Linked DNA regions of Homo sapiens. The protein of the gene in region 2 interacts with the protein of the main gene of each other region in a pairwise test. Each region holds a gene or a part of one and is shown on either strand. Other genes may lie near its edges.

Region 1 (7,000 bases), on a different chromosome or scaffold from region 2:
GTCTAGACTAGGTTGTAAGTTTCCTGCTTCATATAGCTAGTGAGCAATAGAACTAAGATTGGAATACTGGTGTCCTAATTCAGTTATCTTTGCCCTGGGAGCCTGGGCAGATGCGGATGCGAGGTGCGCTGGGAGGTGGCAGCGGTCTGGGGCAGTGGCCTGCGGTGGGTAGGCTGGGACCTCGCAGTCTCCCCACACACATGTGGGGCCCCACCACATGGCGCCTCCCTGCGGGCGTGCACCTGCAGCGGTGGGGGTGGCTGGGGCACCTGGGAACGGGGATGCCTTGCCCTCCGAGGTCTCCCCTGGGCGGCCGCCCATGCCATTTTCCGGGCTGCTCGCCTTCTAGAAGTTCCTGCAGGAAGCTGGTGATGTGGCCTCCCTGACCCGGGCCCGCCCCCCACCACTTTGCTGGAGGGGTAGTCAGATTCCAGCCGGGATACGTAGCAGCAGCTTGGTGGCAGGCGATAGGAAAATGGGCAAAAGCCCCAACTGGCTGGAAGGCAACCCCGGGGGCCGGACCTCCTTGTGGGAGGGCCCGGGACTGCACTAGGCGGGAGTGGAGGCCGCGGCTCCAGGCTGGTCTCGGCCTGGTAATTTGACACGGCCAGCCGGTCACTGTTTAAGGCACTGTGTACCATTTTACTAACTTAATCCTCACGGTGACCGCATTTCCCAGCTGGGCCAACTGGTGCGGGGTTGACTGGAAGCGACCGGGGTTGACTGGAAGCGACCGGCATAGCGCTTGGCAAGTATATAGCAGGTAGTAAAATGGCTGTAATTTTGAAAGTTAGCTTTGTGAAGTGTTGGGGCTGCGGCATCTGCTGGTGGTGTGTGGTATTACAGCCCCGTGCTGGCGGACCCCATTGGGTTGGGGAGCGTTGCGAGATTGTGGCCCCAGAGCCAAGTGGGCAGTTAGGGGTCTCTGGAGACTCTGGAAGGAGAGGTAGCACAAAAGACAGCGGAGGTGTTCGCTTCGGCAGCACATATACTAAAATTGGAACGGTACAGAGATTAGCATGGCCCCTGCGCGAAGATGGCACGCAAATTTGTGAAGCGTTCCATCAAAAAAATAAAAAAATAAAAAATAATAAAAAAAAATGGGGGACTGCGGAGGAGCTAAAATTTCGAGACTGCATGTTTGTTTTTTTTTGTGCACCAGCAGCTCATTAGAAGAATTCCTCAATTGCTGCTTCAACACCCGCCACGATGGCGTTCAACCTGGCAGATTAATTTAACAACTCTCTGATGGGTTGCCCTGAAATTTGAAAAACAGTGCCTTGGGCTGGGCGCGATGGCTCACACCTGTAATCCCAGCATTTTGGGAGACCGAGGCGGGCGAATCACCTGAGGTCGGGAGTTGGAGACCAGCCTGACCAACATGGAGAAACCCCATCTCTACTAAAAATACAAAATTAGCGGGGCATGGTGGCGCATGCCTGTAATCCCAGCTACTCGGGAGGCTGAGGCTTGAACCCGGGAGGCGGAGGTTGCACTGAGCCGAGATCACGCCATTGCACTGCAGCCTGGGCAATGAGCAAAACTCTGTCTCAAGAAAAAAACAAAACAAAACAAAAAACAGTGGCTTAAGCAAAGGCCACAAGAAAGAATTGAGATCAAAGAGGAGTGTGTGCCATGGCTATGGAGGGGTTTCAGTTGTGAATTATGAAATGTCATGTAAACCATTTCAAGCATTTCAAGGAGTTTGAATTTTATATAAAAAACAATGGGAAGACGCTGCAAGTTTTGAAGCAGCATCTCAGACATGTTGAAAAAGATGTTTGGATCCCTAAAATAATGAGAGAAAAGGCCAGAGAGAGGTGTTCTGAACAACTTCAAGATTTTACCAAATGTTGCAAGAACTCTGGAACCCTTACGGTAGGAAAATGCTGGAAAGAAAATTCTCTATTGAAAGGACGTCTAACTGCTCACTATAATGATCCAGCCTTTTATGAAGAATGCAAAATGGAATACCTGAAGGAAGGAAGAATTCAGAAAAACTGGAATTTCTACAAAGAGAAGGCTACAGAAACTTCCCATAAGCCTGTAGGCAAATATTCAAATGATATTCAGGAACTCTAATATTCATGGAAGTCATTTATAGTATAAATTTCCTTAAATAATGGACTCAAGAATGTGTGTTTGCTTTATCCTAATTATGGAAATATTAATTTTTATCTGAAATAAAGATCTTTTATTTCAAAAACGAAAATAAACCCCACACTTCATTAGGGCAGGATTAACATTTGAATTCTACATGTATACATTTCAATCTCCTTTGACCTTGGTTTCATCATCTCTAAAGTTAGGAGTATGTAGTAGTTAGCAGTTGGTTTCCTCACCCTGTAGTAGGGATTCCTCAATCCGGGAAGTGTATGTGTTAGCTTTGTGGAGCCTCTTCAGGTCTGTGGTAGGCTTTCCAGTTGGCATGGGAGTACTTTGAGATCTATGGCTTGCTCTTCCTTTTTAGGCTAGCAGAACCCTATACTTTCTATTGGACTGGAAGCCCATTTCTCTGATGGTTCCAGTGGAAAGCCTTTGTGAACAATAAATCCCAACTAAGTGTTAGGGAACACTGTATTTATTTACTTTTCCTTTGAAGTCTTTGATGCCATTTAGACTGGAAAGTTGTGAAAAATGGAGGTGGAGGTAGTGGGCAGGTGACTATCTCCTTTTCTTTAGTGTGTTCCAAGCTGTAACTTACTAGAGTGCTTTGGCCAAGAGAGCATCTGGTATGATTGGCATGGATTGGAATGACCTGTAGACTCTCACTCTGTCCCCAGAGCCATCATGAAGCTGAATGGCCACCAGTTGGAGAACCATGCCCTGAAGGTCTCCTACATCCCCGATGAGCAGATAGCACAGGGACCTGAGAATGGGCGCCGAGGGGGCTTTGGCTCTCGGGGTCAGCCCCGCCAGGGCTCACCTGTGGCAGCGGGGGCCCCAGCCAAGCAGCAGCAAGTGGACATCCCCCTTCGGCTCCTGGTGCCCACCCAGTATGTGGGTGCCATTATTGGCAAGGAGGGGGCCACCATCCGCAACATCACAAAACAGACCCAGTCCAAGTGAGTCTTGGCTCTTGGGGAATGGAGGTTGGGTGCTAGGGAACAGTGGTTGGTACCTAAAGAGGCCTCCTGGAAGCATGCTGGAGACATCAACATTTACCTTTTAGGAAATGTTGCCTGGAGCATTCAGGGGTCCCTGCTTCCAATACCAGCCTCCTGGGAAAGGGAGGGCAGATAGGGAGGGAGAATGGGTCTGGGGTGCTAGGCCACACACTCGTATTAGCAAGAGAGATTCTATAATTTCTCATGTGAAGTTTCATAAAAAAAGTCTCCAAGCAAACCTCATTTTGATGAGTCAGCAACTCAGTGCTCTGTGATTTCATGATCACTTAGTGTGGTAACAGGGCTGGCCAACCTGTCCAAAATTAGGACCTTCATAATTGTGTCCCATCTCCCATTCTGCCACTGCCACCTTCTTTCTTTAATATTTTTTTTTTTTTTTTTTTGAGACAGAGTTTTGCTCTGTTGCCCAGGCTGGAGTGCAGTGGTGCGATCTCAGCTCACTGCAACCTCTGCCTCCCGGGTTCAAGCAATTCTCCTGCCTCAGCCTCCCGAGTAGCTGGGATTACAGGCGCGTGCCACCATGCCCAGCTAATTTTTGTATTTTTAGTAGAGACAGGGTTTCACCATGTTGATCAGGCTGGTTACGAACTCCTGACCTCGTGATCCGGCCGCCTCAGCCTCCCAAAGTGCTGGGATTAAAGGCGTGAGCTACCACACCCGGCCTTTTCTCTAATCTTTATATCTGATCAGTGTACTCAGTGGCAAAGAACAGGTCATATTATGTCCTTATCATAGTAAATCTTGTTATTTACTTTGAGTTTGGGGCACTGTGTCTTCTCTTTATATTTGTTTCAAGGGGGACATACGGAATTCAAGCGGAAATGCAGCTTTGGAGCTGTGGGCTGGTAATTCCCACCCCTGCATTTGTGTCATAGGCTGTGTTCTTGTCCCCAACCACTGCTTGCTTATTTATTTATTTTTATTTTATTTTTTGAGGCAGAGTCTCACTGCGTCACCCAGGCTGGAGTGTAGTGGTGTGATCTCAGCTCACTGCAGCCTCCTCCCAGGTTCAAGCAATTCTTGTGCCTCAGCCTCCTTAGTAGCTGGGATTACAGGTGTGCACCACCACACCCAGCTAAATTTTTTGTATTTTTAGTAGAGGCGGGGTTTCACCATGCTGGCCAGGCTGGTCTCAAACTCCTGGCCTCAAGTAACCCACCCGCCTCGGCCTCCAAAAGTGCTGGAATTACAGGCGTGAGCTCCCGTGCCTGGCCACCAACCACCTGTGGATTGAGACACTGCTGGTCTGAGACAGAATCCACAGTAACAGACGGGTCATATTTCTCCAGTCCTTTCATTGCCCTTCCCAAAGTTGTACTTGATTGTCCTTGTTTCAAGAAGAGCAGGTTCTATGCCTTTGACTGAGGAGGGGTAGTGGGGTGGGGAGCCTGAAGTACTGGTATCACTGGGGACAACTAACCAGCCTTGTCCTTGTGGCCCCCAGGATAGACGTGCATAGGAAGGAGAACGCAGGTGCAGCTGAAAAAGCCATCAGTGTGCACTCCACCCCTGAGGGCTGCTCCTCCGCTTGTAAGATGATCTTGGAGATTATGCATAAAGAGGCTAAGGACACCAAAACGTAAGTCTCCAGCTTTTCTTGGATCTTCAGGGTCTGCTAGTCCAGTTGAGCCTCCCCAACTCAACTTTCAAGCTTTTATACAGACATATAAGAAATACAGTCAGCAATTGCACAAAAAGATGTAAACTGAGAAATAAAATCTTTCTTCTTACAGGACTTTGTCACCTAGGCTGGAGTACAGTGGCATGATCTCAGCTCACTGCAACCTCTGCCTCTGGATCTCAAGGGATCCTCCCGCCTCAGCCTTCTGAGTAGCTAGGACAACATGCATGCACCACCACGCCTGCCTAGTTTTTTGTGATTTTTGTAGAGATGGGGTGTCGCCATGTTACCCAGGCTGGTCTTGAACTCCTGGACTCAAGTGACCCACCCAGCTCAGCCTCCCAAAGAGCTGGGATTACAGGCGTGTGCCACCACACCCCATCCCTTCTTATTCCTGTCGTATGACCTCCTAGAAATTCTGTGCACTCACAGGTGTGTGTATATTGTGTCTGCGTGCCTGCATGTACGGATATGTGTGCCTGTGTGTATTCACTTGTGCGTGTATGCACATGTGTTTTAGCTCAGAGAGAATCACACTGAACAGGCTGTTCTATACTTTTTTCATTTTCTGTATCAGCACATATATTAGTACATATGGACAGACCGCATTATTTTTATAGCTGCATAGAATTCCACAGTATAGCTATTCATAGTTCATGTAATCAATCTCCTATTTCTTGATGGGTGTTTAAATTGTTTTAAACTTTTCCTTATCAGAAAACAGTGATGCAAGGAATCTGCTTACACATGTTCCTTTACACACTTGTGCTGTTTAAAATAGCTTTATTGGCTGGGCACGGTGGCTCATGCCTCTAATCCCAGCACTTTGGAGGCTAGGAGTTCTAGACCAGCCTGGGCAACATAGTGAAACCTCACCTCTACAGAAAATAGAAAAATCAGCTGGACGTGGCGGCCTGTGCGTATAGTCCCAGCTACTCGGAAGGCTGAGAAGGGAGGATCGCATGAGCCCAGGAGGTCAAGGCTGTGGTGAGCCTTGATAGTGCCACTGCATTCCAGCCTGGGTGATAGAGTGAGACCCTGTCTCAAAAAATAAAACAAATTGGCTTTATTGATGTTCAATTGATGTATAATAAATCATACATATTTTTAAAGTATGCAGTTTGATAAGTTTTGAGATGTTTTACTTGGAAATGCCAAGTCTGGGGTGGCATGGTGATTGAGTCTTCATGAAGCCCACAATTGAAGGAACTCTTGTCTTCCACTTCTTCCTTTGTCTTCCCAAGGGCTGACGAGGTTCCCCTGAAGATCCTGGCCCATAATAACTTTGTAGGGCGTCTCATTGGCAAGGAAGGACGGAACCTGAAGAAGGTAGAGCAAGATACCGAGACAAAAATCACCATCTCCTCGTAAGGCTCTCTTCTATTTCCCTGTTTATGAGTGGGGGATGCATGGGGGCCAGGGTCAGTATTTCATCATGGAACCTTGATATGTGCTCTTTTAAAATGGGTGCTCCTTCTGCCTCTTGAAGAAAAACAGTCGAAGTGGTAAAGAGCATTTAAAAAATCCCTGTAAGGACTGGATCTGCCCATTCCCACTGCCATATGGGGCAGGGGTGTTGTAAGGTGCTGCCTCTACAGTCCACGTCCAACCACTTCACAGCCCTCTTTCCCTGTGGCTCGTGGACAGCCTGCAGCTAGGAGCCAGGGATTCAGGGCTTTAGGCTTGTCTGTCACTGTGAGAAGTGACCTTGGCCCTTTTCTGTCTGTGGTGGGCTGCTCCTGCAAGCAGTGTGCTTCGTTTCATCAGAGACTAACCTGTGGGCAAAGTAATTGCTCTTGTCCAAAAAGGTATAGGACATGGATTATGTAGAATCAATGGGGAAACTTGGAGGCACAACCATAATCTGAGATTGGATCCATTGCTAACAGAGGAGTTTGAGTTAGGTGTTGGCATCTCCCTCCATCTTACCCCCTGCCCTGGTTACAAACTGGGAACACCAAAGACTGGGGTTGCAGAGTTATTTGCCAGAAGTTGAATAGGCTGCAGAAATGGTGGGCCTGTGACTCAGCTGGCCTCTCGTCTTTGTTACTGCCGGGGCCTGGTCCTGGCCTGCCAGTGAAAGGACACAACTCTGCTCTTTCTGCCAGGTTGCAAGACCTTACCCTTTACAACCCTGAGAGGACCATCACTGTGAAGGGGGCCATCGAGAATTGTTGCAGGGCCGAGCAGGAAATAATGAAGAAAGTTCGGGAGGCCTATGAGAATGATGTGGCTGCCATGAGCGTGAGTG
Region 2 (7,113 bases):
GAAATAAATACTGACAAATACCTGACAGTCTCAGTGTTAAGGTAGTGTTATTTTTTTTAAAGTTCTGATGCAAGAACACCCACTGAGAGCAGCCAAAATCTGGGACCTTGGCTATGCATAATGCCAAAGAGAGCCAAACACACCAAGCGATGAGCCACTTACCTCAATGAACATGTCTTCCACAAAACAAGCATCCAGTGCCTTCAACACAGGCATACGTCAAAAATTCCTGGTCCAGGGTGAAAGCCCAGTAGGCATCCACAGGCTGGTTCTCAGTGGATTCATTTGGATTAAGGTTAGTCATTAAAAGGGAGGATAACAAATAAGCTATCTTCTTAGGGTTTCTTCTCTTGTTCTTTGTACTACAAATTACTTGGTGATGTATGTTTTCACGCAAGGAAACAGGCCTAGATAAGAAACCAGGGTTATGAAAATCAGAACTTCTCCTCTACTCTCCCTGACACCAAAGGTTTTCCAACGTCTGGTCAACAGACATCCCTAGCAGATTTTTAAGAAATCTGAATGAAGTCTGGGTATACCGAAGTCACGCACGGCTTTTGTCCCCATTACATTTTCAAACTTCCTTCATATATAGCAGTAAGACCAAGTCATGTATTTGGAATGAACCATCTGGTCTATTACATACAGTCTACCACTATAAAAATGGACATAAAAATGAGTCTTGAACTTGTATTCTGTCTATGGGGATACCACCCAGAATGCACCGGATCGCATCTGAACCTGCATTCTGCGACTATCAAAATAAAGGCAGGCCCAAAGGAAACTGAGAAACTGGCCTAGAACTGAGTGCCTGCTATCTCGTCTTCGTGTGTATTTTGATTATGTATCTCCCTATTGGAAGAACAGAAAAGTTCAACACCACAAAAGCTGGGAAGCAGTACAGGGGCAAACTCAATGGTCACTTGTGAGCCTAACATAATTACTGAATCTTTCATGATTTTTTACATGTAGTTTTAAATAAAAATGTCGGTTTTTTTTTTTCAGCCCAATATCCATGTGCCTAGGTAAAATTCTCACACCCTAAGAAGAAAACTAATGGAAGTTTTCCTTTCTTACATGTGGTTAACTTCAACTTTACGCAACCAACCTTAATTTTACAGATTCACGCTTAACTTTTAAATAAGCATCTTGCCTCTCGAAAGCCACCTTAATATATACTGAAGCAGGTGAATTTGTAAAAAGAGAAGACTTTAGGTTAGCAATTGAATCACAGTGGCAAGAATTCTAGAATTCTGATATGGCCCCGTACGAGGAGTTAGGGAAGGAAGAATGAGTATTCGTATTCCTTCCTTCATCCAAGCACGTCAAAGCATATCAGAGAAAACCATCAGACCCTCACATCCAGTCGAAATGCTACCAACTAAAATATGAGCATTTTGAATCACAAAATTATGTAAACATTCAAATAAAAAAATCAATGTGAAAAATCAAAATGATCTGTTAAACCTCCAATTTTTACTTTCAGAGATTGCTGATGCCTATGTCAATGTATCTCAAATAGTTTCCTTTTTACACATTTAACTCAACTTTGATACTATACCTACCAGACCTGGACCAGTTTAATTGCATAGGAAGATTTTTACTATGTTTACATTTTTCTTAAATTAATTTTTAAAAAAGCATAGTAAAGAGTCTGAGGACAAATTATTCAACTGTTTATCATACATAAGACCGCATGACTATAATACAAAGGGGGGTTCTTTTTTCATTTAACGTTACAATATACACAGCAAGTCCGGACTAGATCTTACAATCTGAACACAGGTATTTAACCTTTTCCATGCTGTTTATGTTTACAATGCACAGAAGTCCTGTAACCAAACTGTGTAGTAAAGCACACAAAACTGGACTGTAACATAACACAGTATGCAGAAGCATTGGATTTTATGATTTTCTTTACGTAAATATCGGTTTAAAAACTGCTTTAGTTTTTTGGTGCTTGCTAAGATGTGGCAACCAGCACAGAAAAAAAAAATGACCTGACCCATATGATATCTTAACCTTATATTCCTAAACAGCAGTAACTACTGAATTCCTTTTGATATTGCTATACTCAAGATGATATCCTTTTATTCACTGTAAACCTTTATGAACTACCAAGTTCAAAAAAATCATCCACAGGCTTGACAGTTAATTACAAAATAAATATGGATTTCCTGATAAACAACAAAAAGTTTTTGTAGTTTATAAAAACGAGTATTTCCAAGTTTCCATTCACATTTACATAGTGTTTAGCCTTTCTTTTCTCACTGTTTACATATAAAAACCTGCTTTTGTTCAGAAAAAAAATTGACCTAGTCAGCCACATGGAATTGACCAATAGAATGAAACGCGGTGTTCTGCTGAGTCATCTTAAACAGGTTATCGGCAGAGGTAGATTACTGCTTCTTTTCTAGGCTTCTTTTGATCCTGGACAGGTAAATTACTTATCTTCATTCTCCCAATTCAACCGCTCAAAAGTGTCACACCCCAAAATTGGTCAATTTAAAATGGGAACACAAATTTAGCAACTGCCAGACTGTGTTACATTAAGGCAGCGTAATCTCAACACGAGGCACCTGTTAAATACCAGCCTGTCTGCTCAGGTCACGCATGAGAGTTCTGCTTTGCTTGCACTCATACTCTGGACCTGTTGGTGCAATCAAGGTCTTGCTTTCAAGTTTACAAGTAGGTTAATCAGGAATACAAGAATCAACTGCTGGTTCCATAGCTTCTGGATCCAGTGTCCCTTTACCTTCAGAAGCCTGAACACACTTAGAATGTAACAGATGTTGTAATCTTGAATTAGATGTCAATCTACTATGTTCAGTACACAGATTGCTGTAAATGTATTGGCTATGGATTCAACAACAGTTCCAGTTTTGTTTAAGCAATAGTACAGCCATAATTTTCAACTGACATTTAAAAATGGTCTAGTTACACCTTGTGTCAAAGTGCAGAACTGCTACATTATTGGTTACAGACATCTATGTGCTATAAAAACAGCTTTGGTACAATAAATTATCAAAAAAGAAAATAAATTTTTGTAAAATTCACAGCATAATTGTGAGGCAAAAAAGCAGTCACATAAAATTCTGCATTTTTTAAAAATGTTCAGGATGAACAGAAGACATCTTTGTGCAGAAGAAATGGTGGAGATACCACGTGCCGAGAAAAAGCAAAAGAAAAAGTAAAAAGCAGGAAGGGACACAGCTGTAGCTATTTCCATCAAAGCAAACCACTACTTCTGTGACCTTCAACCAATAAGGAAGTCAACTTTATGACACACGCAAAGTGACCTTGCAATACCTTACAATTAGTGGGTCACAAAAGTCTATTTTAAAAGAAAGGCCTCTTGAATTACCCATTCTCTGTGTTTTCAGCATTAAGGACTGTCTGCAAAAGCATGTCCAAAAGTGATTGCATCTGAAATGGTAGGCTCTTCTAATTTCGAGTCCAAATCCATAAGGCCAAAGGTTATCCCAAAGACCACCACTCAGACCTCCCCAGGACTGGCCACGACCGACCCGTTGATTGCTTCTCAGTGCACCTTGGTTAGGAGACCAGTCACGTTCCATCCTATCTTCCTGTGGCCTCTGCAACGGGAGAGCCACAGGATCCCATGTAATTGCTGCTTTGCTCCTCAGTAGGTTCAGATAGGAGAGTTCTGATCCCCGCCACTCAGCATGCTTACTGTGCCTGACAAACTTCACCACAACCGTCCCTTTCATACAGCTGAAGATGGTGTTTGTGGAAGCTGGAGGTCCCTCTTCCTTACAGTACTGCATTTCCGTGCCCAAGTGTGTTTAGAGGACTTAAAAACCCAAATTTCCCACCCTCCCACCCAAAACAAAACAGAACAAAACAAAAAAAAAGGGGGATGGGGGGGACAAAAAGAAAAAAAAAAAACACCCTCATGGGGCCCTTTATGCAAATTATGTGCAGTGCCTTTTACTTTAAAATTAGTTGGCAAATGACCAAGACCAACATCTGAATATTAACTTTTGCTGAATAGAAAGACAAAAAAACCCCACTGTGACTGGGATGTGGCAAGTTAAAATGGGGGAGCAAAAAGAGGATACCTCTGAGCTATCCATGAAGATGGGTTTGGACATGGCTCTTTTAAACACTTCAATGTCCCTTTGCAATCTTTTCAAGTTAAAAAAAAAATCAGCTTTGCCCTCTTGTAGCGGTTCAGTGTGTTAATCTCCTCCTGATTCAAGCAGCTTTGCACTTTGTTTTTGGAAAAAAAACACCACTTCTATAAAAACACACAAGAAACAAACTCAAGTTTCAATGTAGTCACGAGCTAGCTACAGGACTCTGTTGCACACAAACTCCTGTCATGGGGGACTCTTCTCTATCAGCCCCTTGCCTCATTGTCAGATGTCCTTCAGTCATGTAATGTGCAGGACCTGTATTAGCAGAAAATTGGTATGTTGGATGTCCAGCTATGCCAGTCTCTTGGCGGGGATTGGAGTAGACGGTCAAATTAACGTCCATAGCTCCATTCTGTCCAAAGTCCAAGGTATTAGCAGCCACTGGGCGATTCTGGTAGGCCTGATTGCCTTGGTTACCAGTAGAGGAGGAAGATGTCGAGGAAGAAGTCGTTGAGGAAGACAGGGATGTCATGGAGTGGTGACTGTGGCCAACCTCCATAGAATCTTGGGTAGAGGAGCTATTCGTTGGAGAATTGTAGACCCTTGGCCTGGTCCGGTTACCCAAGGCTTGTTGTCCATGGTGGTGGTGATGGTGGTGGTGGTGGTGATGGTGATGGGAACTGTTACCATGGTGATGATGCAATGCATTCTGTTGAGGGGCTACATGAAAGGTTGTTTCTTGAACAGGATGAGTTTCAACAGTGACCTGTGTAGGAGCTTCAGTGCCTGACCAACCAAGAGGAGCAGGAAATTGCTGACGCACCTGAAAGAACAGATTTTTAAAAGGATTTTTCAGAGGACTGTTTCCAAGCTTTAATCTTCCATCAAAAGCCATGACACTAACAAACTAGCATCATATTAATCAGGGGGAAACGGTTTTTGAAACTTTTAATGTGTTAAGACAGTTTTATAACACAAAATCCCAAATACATTCAAGGGCAAAAAATTTCATCATGAAAGCTGCAATTTTTAGGAAGTTATATCCTTAAATAGGTTCATCTATTTCACTAGCCACTGTCCTTCCTTGGGAGCCCTGTTTATGCCAGGGGTCAGCAAATATTTCCTGAAAAGGGCTGGACAGTATTCTGGGCAGGTCCAAAAGGAAGTCTTTACTTTTCCCTCATGTCCTTCCTCTCTCCATCTTTCTTCTTTCAATAAAGGACTACTATCTACCTAGCTGCTCAACAATGCCTCTGTCCAACCCATGAGCAAGAACTTATGAGTCTACCTGTGAAACAGATTCCAAATTTGGCCTCTTCTCTTCATCCCCATCATCTCTTGCCTACGCTAACACAACAGCCCCTTAAATGAACTCCTTGTTTCCATCCTTGCCCTTCTCCAAAGGGTAGCAGGAACAATCTTTTCTTAACACAAATCCAATCACTTCCCTATTTAAAATCCTTTAATGACTTCTCACTGCACTTAGAAAAACAAAATAAACCCAAATGGATACAACGATCTGCATCATCTGGCCAATGCCCACTTCTCTAACCTCTTTCTCCACCCATCCTATCCCTGGCTACCTGAGTTCCAAACAAAGAAGACCTGCCTTCCATTCCTCCCCTGGGTCAAAATCTCTCAAATGCCTCAGTGTACTAGTAACACGCTGCTCCCTTCTGCCTAGAAATGTTATTTCTTGGATTTTCTTATTGCTTGGATGTCTCTTTTTCATCGCTTCAGTTCCAGAGCCTTCCCTGACCACTCTGGCTGATGCTGCCTCAACAACTGTGGCAGAAGCTACTGGTTGTGCACAATATTCTTCTCGTTCCTGAGCACATGGCTACACAACACTTCCCAGCCTCCCTTGTACTTACTGATGGCCATATGTCTAAGCTGTCAATGGAATGTGAATGAAAGCTTGTGTCACTGCTAGCCTGGCACACAAGATAATACCTCCCAAGTCCTTCTGCCTGCTGGACACAGTAGACAAGTAGGCCCTAGGGCAAGGTGGAACCACAAGATGGTAGGAGATCAGGACCTGGAAGACGGCCTAGCCACTAACCTGAACACCTATTCTGGACTGTTGCACAAAAATGAAGGAAACTTGGTACTCTTTAAGCTACCATATTTTGGGGGTCTGTTATATCAGAGTTTGGCCTATTCTAATTAATACATCCTATCCAACAAACAGTCTTTCTCTACCAAATTATCCTTATTTTCTTTTTAACAGCTAATGCTACTTGCCATTTTTCTTCATGTTCATTTTATTTACTTGTGTCACTGTAAGCTCTAGGAAGGCAAAAGGCTCAGTCTCTATCCAGTGGCTGGCACAAATTGTTAAGGGTTTATTCAACAAAGGTGGTCTGAGAACCAAACTTTTAAGAGATACTACTGAAAACAATCAGTAGAAAAGCTGGCAGTGAGTTCTCAGAAAATACTATATGGTTTTTATATGAAGTTAATCAAGTTACTGGATTAGAAAATCACATGGGGGGCAATCTGGCAATAGTTATCAAAATTATAAATCACATTACCCTTTGAAACAGTCATTCTGCTTTCAGGAATTTATATCACAGATAAAATGTCTATGTGTGAATGAGACATGTACAGTGGTGCCTCCTTATCCACAAGAGATACAGTCCAAGATCCCCACTGGATGCCTGAAACTGCAGAGGACTAAACCCTCTATATACTATGTTTTTTGATCTGATAATCTAGATGGCTACAAAGCAAAGTAACTTATCTACTGTGTGGACATGCTAGACGAAGGGATGAGTCATGCCCAGGGTGGGACAGCATGAGATTTCATCGTGCTACTCATAACAGAATTTAAAACTTACGAATTGCTTCTGAAATTTTCCACTTTATATTTTTGGACCGTGACTGACTGAATAACTGGAACTGTGGATAAGAAGGGACACTACCGTACAGGGTTATTTATTAAACTACCATTTGTAAATAGTAAAAAAGGTTGGAAATGAACTAAATGTCCATTAATAAATAGGGGACCGGT
Region 3 (7,000 bases), on a different chromosome or scaffold from region 2:
AAGTTAGCTGGGTGTGGTGGCAGGCGTCTGTAGTCCCAGCTACTCAGGAGGCTGAGGCAGGAGAATGGCGTGAACCCGGAAGGCGGAGCTTGCAGTGAGTTGAGATCGCACCACTGCACTCCAGCCTGGGTGACAGAGCGAGACTCCGTCTCAAAAAAAAAAAAAGACTTAGTTGTTCCAAGTTATTTCCTCCTCTCTTAAATCTTTCTTGTGGGCACAGAGGTAGCAAACGACCAAATAAAAGCAATACAAGATTCCAAGGGGCAACTGATTGAAAATATGTATCCATATCACTACACTGGTGATACTTGAATATGCATAAGGATTCTCATATGCTATCATGTGAAAACAAATTTTTGTTAGCTCTCCATGCATTTGACCTAGGTTTTTTTTTTCTAAGCATATCTTCAAACTTAATTTACCTGCTTAATTCATCTCTGGCTTCTAGCAATTTAGTTGCTTATATCCTTTAGAATCTGACTTTTGCTGTCATCAAATCATGCTCATGTATTTGCATACTATGGGCATGAAGCAGGGCAAGTTACATAAAAGAGCCCAGCTCTCCTGGTTTTCCCAGTGATTAGTATTAAGGAACTATGAAGTGTAATCTCTGGATGGAGCCAAGTTTCGTGAAGATGGGTTGGGGATAGGAATGAGAATCAAAGTTGAAATGCCCTTTAAATGATCCACAATTAAGGAAAGCTTGGAACTGGGTCTTAAAGCCATATAAAATCAGACCTCTTGTGGGCAAAGTCTGGAGTATCCAGGATAATACCAGATGTACTGAAAATCAGACTTTATTTGATATGTGTTGCTAAATAAATAAAAGGAAAACTCTGTCTTCAATTTATGAGAGTGAAAGTATATGGCTACCTGACATTTTTATATAATCTTTAAAACTTTTGCCTTTAAAAAGTTACCTAGAAACATGTCATTAGTCCTTCTGGGTCACTGGGGAAGATTAGGAGTGGGATTGAGATTGGTCATTGCTCAGGAGACATTGTAAATTTGGATGCTCCCAGCTTCTCTGCATTTATCTTTTTTTTTTTTTTTTGAGACAGTCTTGCTCTGTCGTCCAGGCTGGAGTGCAGTGGCGTGATCTCGGCTCACTGCAACCTCCTGGGTTCAAGTGATTCTAATGCCTTAGCCTCTCAGTAGCTGGGACTACAGGCACATGCCACCATGCCGGACTAATTTTTGTATTTTTAGTAGAGACAGGGTTTTGCCATGTTGGTCAGTCTGGTCTCGAACTCCTGGCCTCAAGTGATCTGCCCGCCTTAGCCTCCCAAAGTGCTGCAATTATAGGTGTGAGTCACTGCACCTGGCCCTTCTCTGCATTTATCTACTGGGAGGTTCCTACACTGAAATCAGATAGCCTATGCCCTACAGCTTCTGTTCCATGGGTACTCTAAATTTGTGGCACTCCCAAAGGGAGATTAGGTAGGTTCTCAGGAGGGTGGAGGTTAGTCTCAGATACCAGCTTACCCCAATTTCCTTGTTTTTTCAGGACACCTGACTGATAGTGAATGTAATCAGAAACACACATCCAAGAAAGGGTCACTGATAGAGCGCAAGAGGAGCTCTGGTCGGGTTAGGAGGAAAGGCGATGAGCCCCAGGCCTCGGGATACCACAGTGAAGGCAAGCCCTTCTGCACTGCTTCTCTTTCTCCTTCATTCACTCTATCAAACTTCTGTCATGCTCCAGACTGTTGGCTTCTCCTTTCTGTTCAGAGGGCTTTTCTTTGCTTTTTCGACATTGGGGTCTAGTATCCATGATCACTTTAAACATCTATATTTCTTTCATTCTTTGTGTTTTTAGGAGAAACACTGAAAGAGAAGCAGGCTCCTAGAAATGCCTCCAAACCATCCAGCAGCACCAACAGGCTGAGAGATTTTAAAGAGACAGTCAGCAATATGATCCATAACAGACCATCCCTGGCTTCTCAGACCAATGTAGGCTCTCACTGCAGGGGCAGAGGAGGAGACCAGCCTGACAAAAAACCTCCTAGGACCCTGCCTTTACACTCTCGTGACTGGGAAATAGAGAGTACCAGCAGTGAGTCAAAATCCAGTTCTTCCAGCAAGTATCGTCCCACATGGAGACCCAAACGAGAATCTCTGAATATTGACAGTATCTTTAGTAAGGACAAAAGGAAGCACTGTGGCTATACCCAGCTTAGCCCCTTTTCTGAGGATTCAGGTGAGGAGATAATTAGGGAAGAATTGGGCTTTTGAATAAAGTTGATTTATGTCTTTTTAAAACCTGGGTTTTTTGGTACATCTGGCAAGGGGCACTTTTACTCTGATGTCGGGTGTTTTAGGGATATGAGTTCAGTGAATAAGTAGCTAGAGGGAGGAGCTAGTTAGGTCTTGATTTTAGGCAAATGCTAAATCTACCTCATTTTCCATACCTGTCTTTTGATTGGGATAGCTAAAGAATTTATACCAGATGAACCAAGCAAGCCACCTTCTTACGACATTAAATTTGGTGGACCAAGCCCCCAGTACAAGCGCTGGGGCCCAGCACGGCCAGGCTCTCACCTTTTAGAGCAGCACCCCCGACTAATCCAGCGAATGGAATCTGGCTATGAAAGCAGTGAGAGGAACAGCAGCAGCCCTGTCAGCCTGGATGCAGCCCTGCCTGAGAGCTCAAATGTCTACAGGTATTGTTTGGCCTTTGAACAGCAACATTGTCTCTTGCAGCAATGTGAGCCACCTACTTGGGGCTTTCAGGCATGGCTGAGACAAGTGGAGGGATGGCCTTTGCTATTATCTCTATGTGCTCTTTCAACTTCCTATAACAACAGCACCCTCTGCTGGAAGAACAGAGGCACTTGAGAAAGGAGAGAGAACTTTCTATTTGAAATACAGTTATCATGTATAAAATAATTTTAAAAAATTAGGTTCAGGGGGCATATGTGCAGGTTTGTTAGGATAAACTTGTGTCATAGGAGTTCATTGTACAGATTATTTTGTTACCCACATATTAAGCTAGTACTCACTAATTATTTTTCCTGATCCTTTCTTTCCTCCCACCCTCCACCCTCCGATAGGCCTGTGTCTGTTGTTCCCCTCTGTGTGTTCATGTGTCCTCACCATGTAGCTCCCACTTATAAGTGACAATATGCTGTATTTGGTTTTCTGTTCCTGTCTTAGTTTGCTAAGGATAATGAAATAATTGTTTAGTGCTTGCTTTGGTAGCACATATACTAAAATTGGAACAATACAGAGAAGATTAGCATGGCTCCTGCTCAAAGGTGGCACAAAAATTTGTGAAGATTTCTGTATTTTTCAGATATGTAGGATAAACAAGTCTAGGGATCTAATGTAAAACATGACTACAATTAATAAAATTGTACTGCATATGAGATTCATGGTAAATGAGTAGATTTTAACTCCTCTTGCCACAAAAACAAAAAAAATGGGTAACTATATGAGATGATGGGTATATTAATTTCCTTCAATTATAGTAACCATTTTACTGTCTCTATGTATCTCATAACATCATGTTGTATACCTTAAATATACACAGTAAAAAAATGTATTAAAGAACAGATTAGGTCAGGCATGTTGGCTCACGCCTGTAATCCCAGGCTAGCACAAAAATTAGTGAGGCATGGTGGTGGGCGTCTGTAATCCCAATTACTTGGGAGGCTAAGGCAGGAGAATCGCTGGAATCCAGGAGGTGGAGGTGGTAATGAGCCGAGCTCGTGCCATGGCAACTCCAGCCTAGGCGACAGAGCAAGGCTCCATCTCAAAAAAAAAAAAAAGAAACAAAAACGGACTAGGCCTGCCGCAGTAGCTCACGCTTGTAATCCCAGCACTTTGGGAGGCCGAGGCGGGTGGATCACGACGTCAGAAGTTCGTGACCAGCCTGGCCAACATGGTGAAACCCCGTCTCTACTAAAGATACAAAAACAAAAATTAGCCGGGCGTGGTGGTGGGAGCCTGTAATCCCAGCTACTTGGGAGGCTGAGGCAGGAGAATTACTTGAACCCAGGAGGTGGACGTTGCAGTGAGCCAAGATCGTGCCATTGCACTCCAGTCTGGGCAACAGAGTGAAACTCCATCTCAAAAAAACAAACAAACAAAAAAAGAATGTATTAGTGGGCCAGGCGCGGTGGCTCATGCCTGTAATCCTAGCACTTTGGGAGGCCGAGCTGGGTGGATCACAAGGTCAGGAGATCGAGAACATCTTGGCCAACATGGTGAAACCCCGTCTCTACTAAAAACACAAAAATTAGCTGGGCATGGTGGCGCGCACCTCTAGTCCCAGCTACTCTGGAGGCTGAGGCAGGAGAATCACTTGAACCCGGGAGGCGGAGTTTGCAGTGAGCCAAGATCACGTCACTGCACTCCAGCCTGGGTGACAAGAGCGAAACTCCATCTCAAAAAGAATGGATTAGTGAATTAAAACTTATGTAATACTAAAATCAGAGAAGAAGCCCAAATGTTATTTTGGGACAGTGTTTTGTTGTCGTTGCTTTTTTTTTTTTTTTTTTTTTGGTATCGATGGGGTTTCATCATTTTGCCCAGGCTTGTCTTGAACTCCTGGGCTCAAGTGATTTACCCACCTCAGCCTCCCAGAGTACTGAGATTATAGGTGTGAGTCACCACACCCAGTATGGTGGGATAGTTTTTATTTTGATTTGTTTTAGGGTCACTGGGACTTTGTGTTTTATAATGCTAATAATATTCATAATAATGATGACAGTTTATTAGCACTCATTGTACCCTGCCCATAGGGCTCAGTTTGCTTTATAACTTTCAAATCTCCATACATTATTTTTACTGAGTTGCCACAGAGGCAATTTTTCTGTTTTCTTTTTTTTTTTTTTTTTTTTGAGATGGAGTGTCTCGCTCTGTCACCAGGCTGGAGTGCAATGGCACGATCTCGGCTCACTGCAACCTCTGCCTCCTGGGTTCAAGCGATTCTCCTGCCTCAGCCTCCCTAGTAGCTGGCACTACAGGCGCCCACCACCACACCCAGCTAATTTTTGTAATTTTAGTAGAGATGGGGTTTCACCATGTTGGCCAGGATGGTCTTGATCTCTTGATCTCATGATCCGCCTGCCTCAGCCTCCCAAAGTGCTGGGATTACAGGCATGAGCCACTGTACCTGGCCAAGGCAATTTTTCTAATAGTAGAGCTGCTTTGAAAAGCATGATTATATCTTCTACAAAGGTGATAACCACATGTTCATACTCTGTCAATGTTCTTCCCTGTCCACAGGATCCTGTTGAGTTTTACTTATGAGAAGATGCTACAAAGGTTTAGTAAGAAAGAAGGAAATAAATATGAAACCAATATGTTCATTAGTACATTCAACAGATTTTGAATATGTATTATGTACCAGATACTGTGCTAGATGCACAAGTTGTGAATGAGGTGAGATGAGGTTAGATAGGAGAATGAGTGGATATTTCAATTCTTCAGAAGTAGTTTAGCAGAAGCTCTAATTGTGTAGTTTGATTTTTTTTTTTTGAGAGAGAGATTTAGTCCTAGGAATGTTGCTATAACCTGCTTTCATGCTTTCACTAGACTCTGAGTTCTCTTTTGAAGGGATCCAAGTGCTAAGAGATCAGCTGGGTTGGTTCCTTCCTGGCGTCATATCCCAAAGTCGCACAGCAGTAGCATCCTGGAGGTAGACTCCACAGCATCCATGGGTGGCTGGACAAAGAGTCAGCCTTTCTCTGGTAAGCAGAATGACACTGAATTTGAGGACTGGATTTGACCGGCAGTTTTGTCTGGGGACCAGACTTACCTGAGCACATTTGAAATTAGAGGACAGTTACAGGCCGGGCGCGGTGGCTCACACCTGTAATCCCAGCACTTTGGGAGGCCGAGGCAGGCAGATTGCCTGAGCTCAGGAGTTCGTGACCAGCCTGGGCAACATGGTGAAACCCCGTCTCTACTAAAATACAAAAAATTAACCAGCGTAGCGGCGTGCACCTGTAGTCCCAGCTGCTCGGGAGGCTGAGGCAGGAGAATTGCTTGAACCTGGGAGGCGGAGGTTGCAGTGAGCCAAGATCGTGCCACTGCACTCCAGCCTGGGCGACAGAGTGAGACTCCATTTCAAAAAAAAAGAGGACAGTTACAGTTTGAGTATTCCATCAGAATGTAAATGTAGAGTCATTTCAGTTGCTCCATCTTTGGATTTATCTATTTTTTGTTCTCCATCACAGCCTGCATGAATATTTCTTTCTACCTGGAGGGAGCCCTTGTGGGAGCAAGAAGGGACAGAAATATGGTGAACAGTGTTACTAACATCCCCATTCTTCAGAAGAATAAATCCTAGGGCTTTCCTTGGATTAGGGACAGCCTCTTGGGAAATGGATTTCTTATTGTTTAGTATTATGAATTGACATACCAAAGGGGTACATGTGGCTATTTGCAAAACTTGGAAATAAGCAATTCAAATTTATCCTTACCCCTGGCTAAATATCTTAGTCTTACTACCAATTCTCTTGATAGTTACTGACAATTCTTAGAGGTAGCAGGAAGAAAGGCCTGCAGCAGCAGTAGTAAAAAGGCATGAACCCTTTTAGGTATGTATACTAAAGGTTGTGGACATCTGGCAGAGCAGAACAATGCCTATAGAGGCAGATATCTCTGGAATCCTGGGCTCTAGTAAGTTATAGTTAGAGACACGTGGAAGACATTTGGGCTTCCCATTGTAATTATACATTTGATTTATTCCCCACATTTTAATTTATTTCATGTTGAATAACATTGTTTCAAGAAACTTGTGAATCGTGCATGAGACTATTCTCCCTTCTCTTCAGATAGCCAGCATTTTTTTAATTACACTAATGACTGAGTCTCATGATCTCCTGAATAGTCCTCAATTCTGGACCAGTTGGATAGAATTCACCAACAGCGTTCTTCAACTGGTAAAAGATAATTAGCAAGGAGTTATGACAAGATTCTTCACACACCATATCACCCCACCATCCTGTTTGTATAATAAGCCCTATTTATGCGCCACAATTTGATCTAA

The links.
Region 1: the proteins of DYRK1A (region 2) and IGF2BP1 interact in binary tests that used the Homo sapiens proteins (3 or more experiments, as listed by UniProt).
Region 3: the proteins of DYRK1A (region 2) and USP54 interact in binary tests that used the Homo sapiens proteins (3 or more experiments, as listed by UniProt).

What each region holds. Positions count from the first base shown.
Region 1 is NC_000017.11:49,035,385-49,042,384, forward strand, and holds part of IGF2BP1 (insulin-like growth factor 2 mRNA-binding protein 1), read left to right. Parts: intron 1-2,783; coding exon 2,784-3,065; intron 3,066-4,572; coding exon 4,573-4,707; intron 4,708-5,993; coding exon 5,994-6,116; intron 6,117-6,857; coding exon 6,858-6,993; intron 6,994-7,000. UniProt on the Homo sapiens protein: RNA-binding factor that recruits target transcripts to cytoplasmic protein-RNA complexes (mRNPs). This transcript 'caging' into mRNPs allows mRNA transport and transient storage.
Region 2 is NC_000021.9:37,509,721-37,516,833, reverse strand, and holds part of DYRK1A (dual specificity tyrosine-phosphorylation-regulated kinase 1A), read right to left. Parts: intron 4,924-7,113; coding exon 4,303-4,923; 3' UTR 1-4,302. UniProt on the Homo sapiens protein: Dual-specificity kinase which possesses both serine/threonine and tyrosine kinase activities. Exhibits a substrate preference for proline at position P+1 and arginine at position P-3.
Region 3 is NC_000010.11:73,525,343-73,532,342, reverse strand, and holds part of USP54 (ubiquitin carboxyl-terminal hydrolase 54), read left to right. Parts: intron 1-1,507; coding exon 1,508-1,639; intron 1,640-1,819; coding exon 1,820-2,200; intron 2,201-2,431; coding exon 2,432-2,663; coding exon of another isoform or gene 2,664-2,838; exon of another isoform or gene 2,839-3,154; intron 3,155-5,562; coding exon 5,563-5,696; intron 5,697-7,000.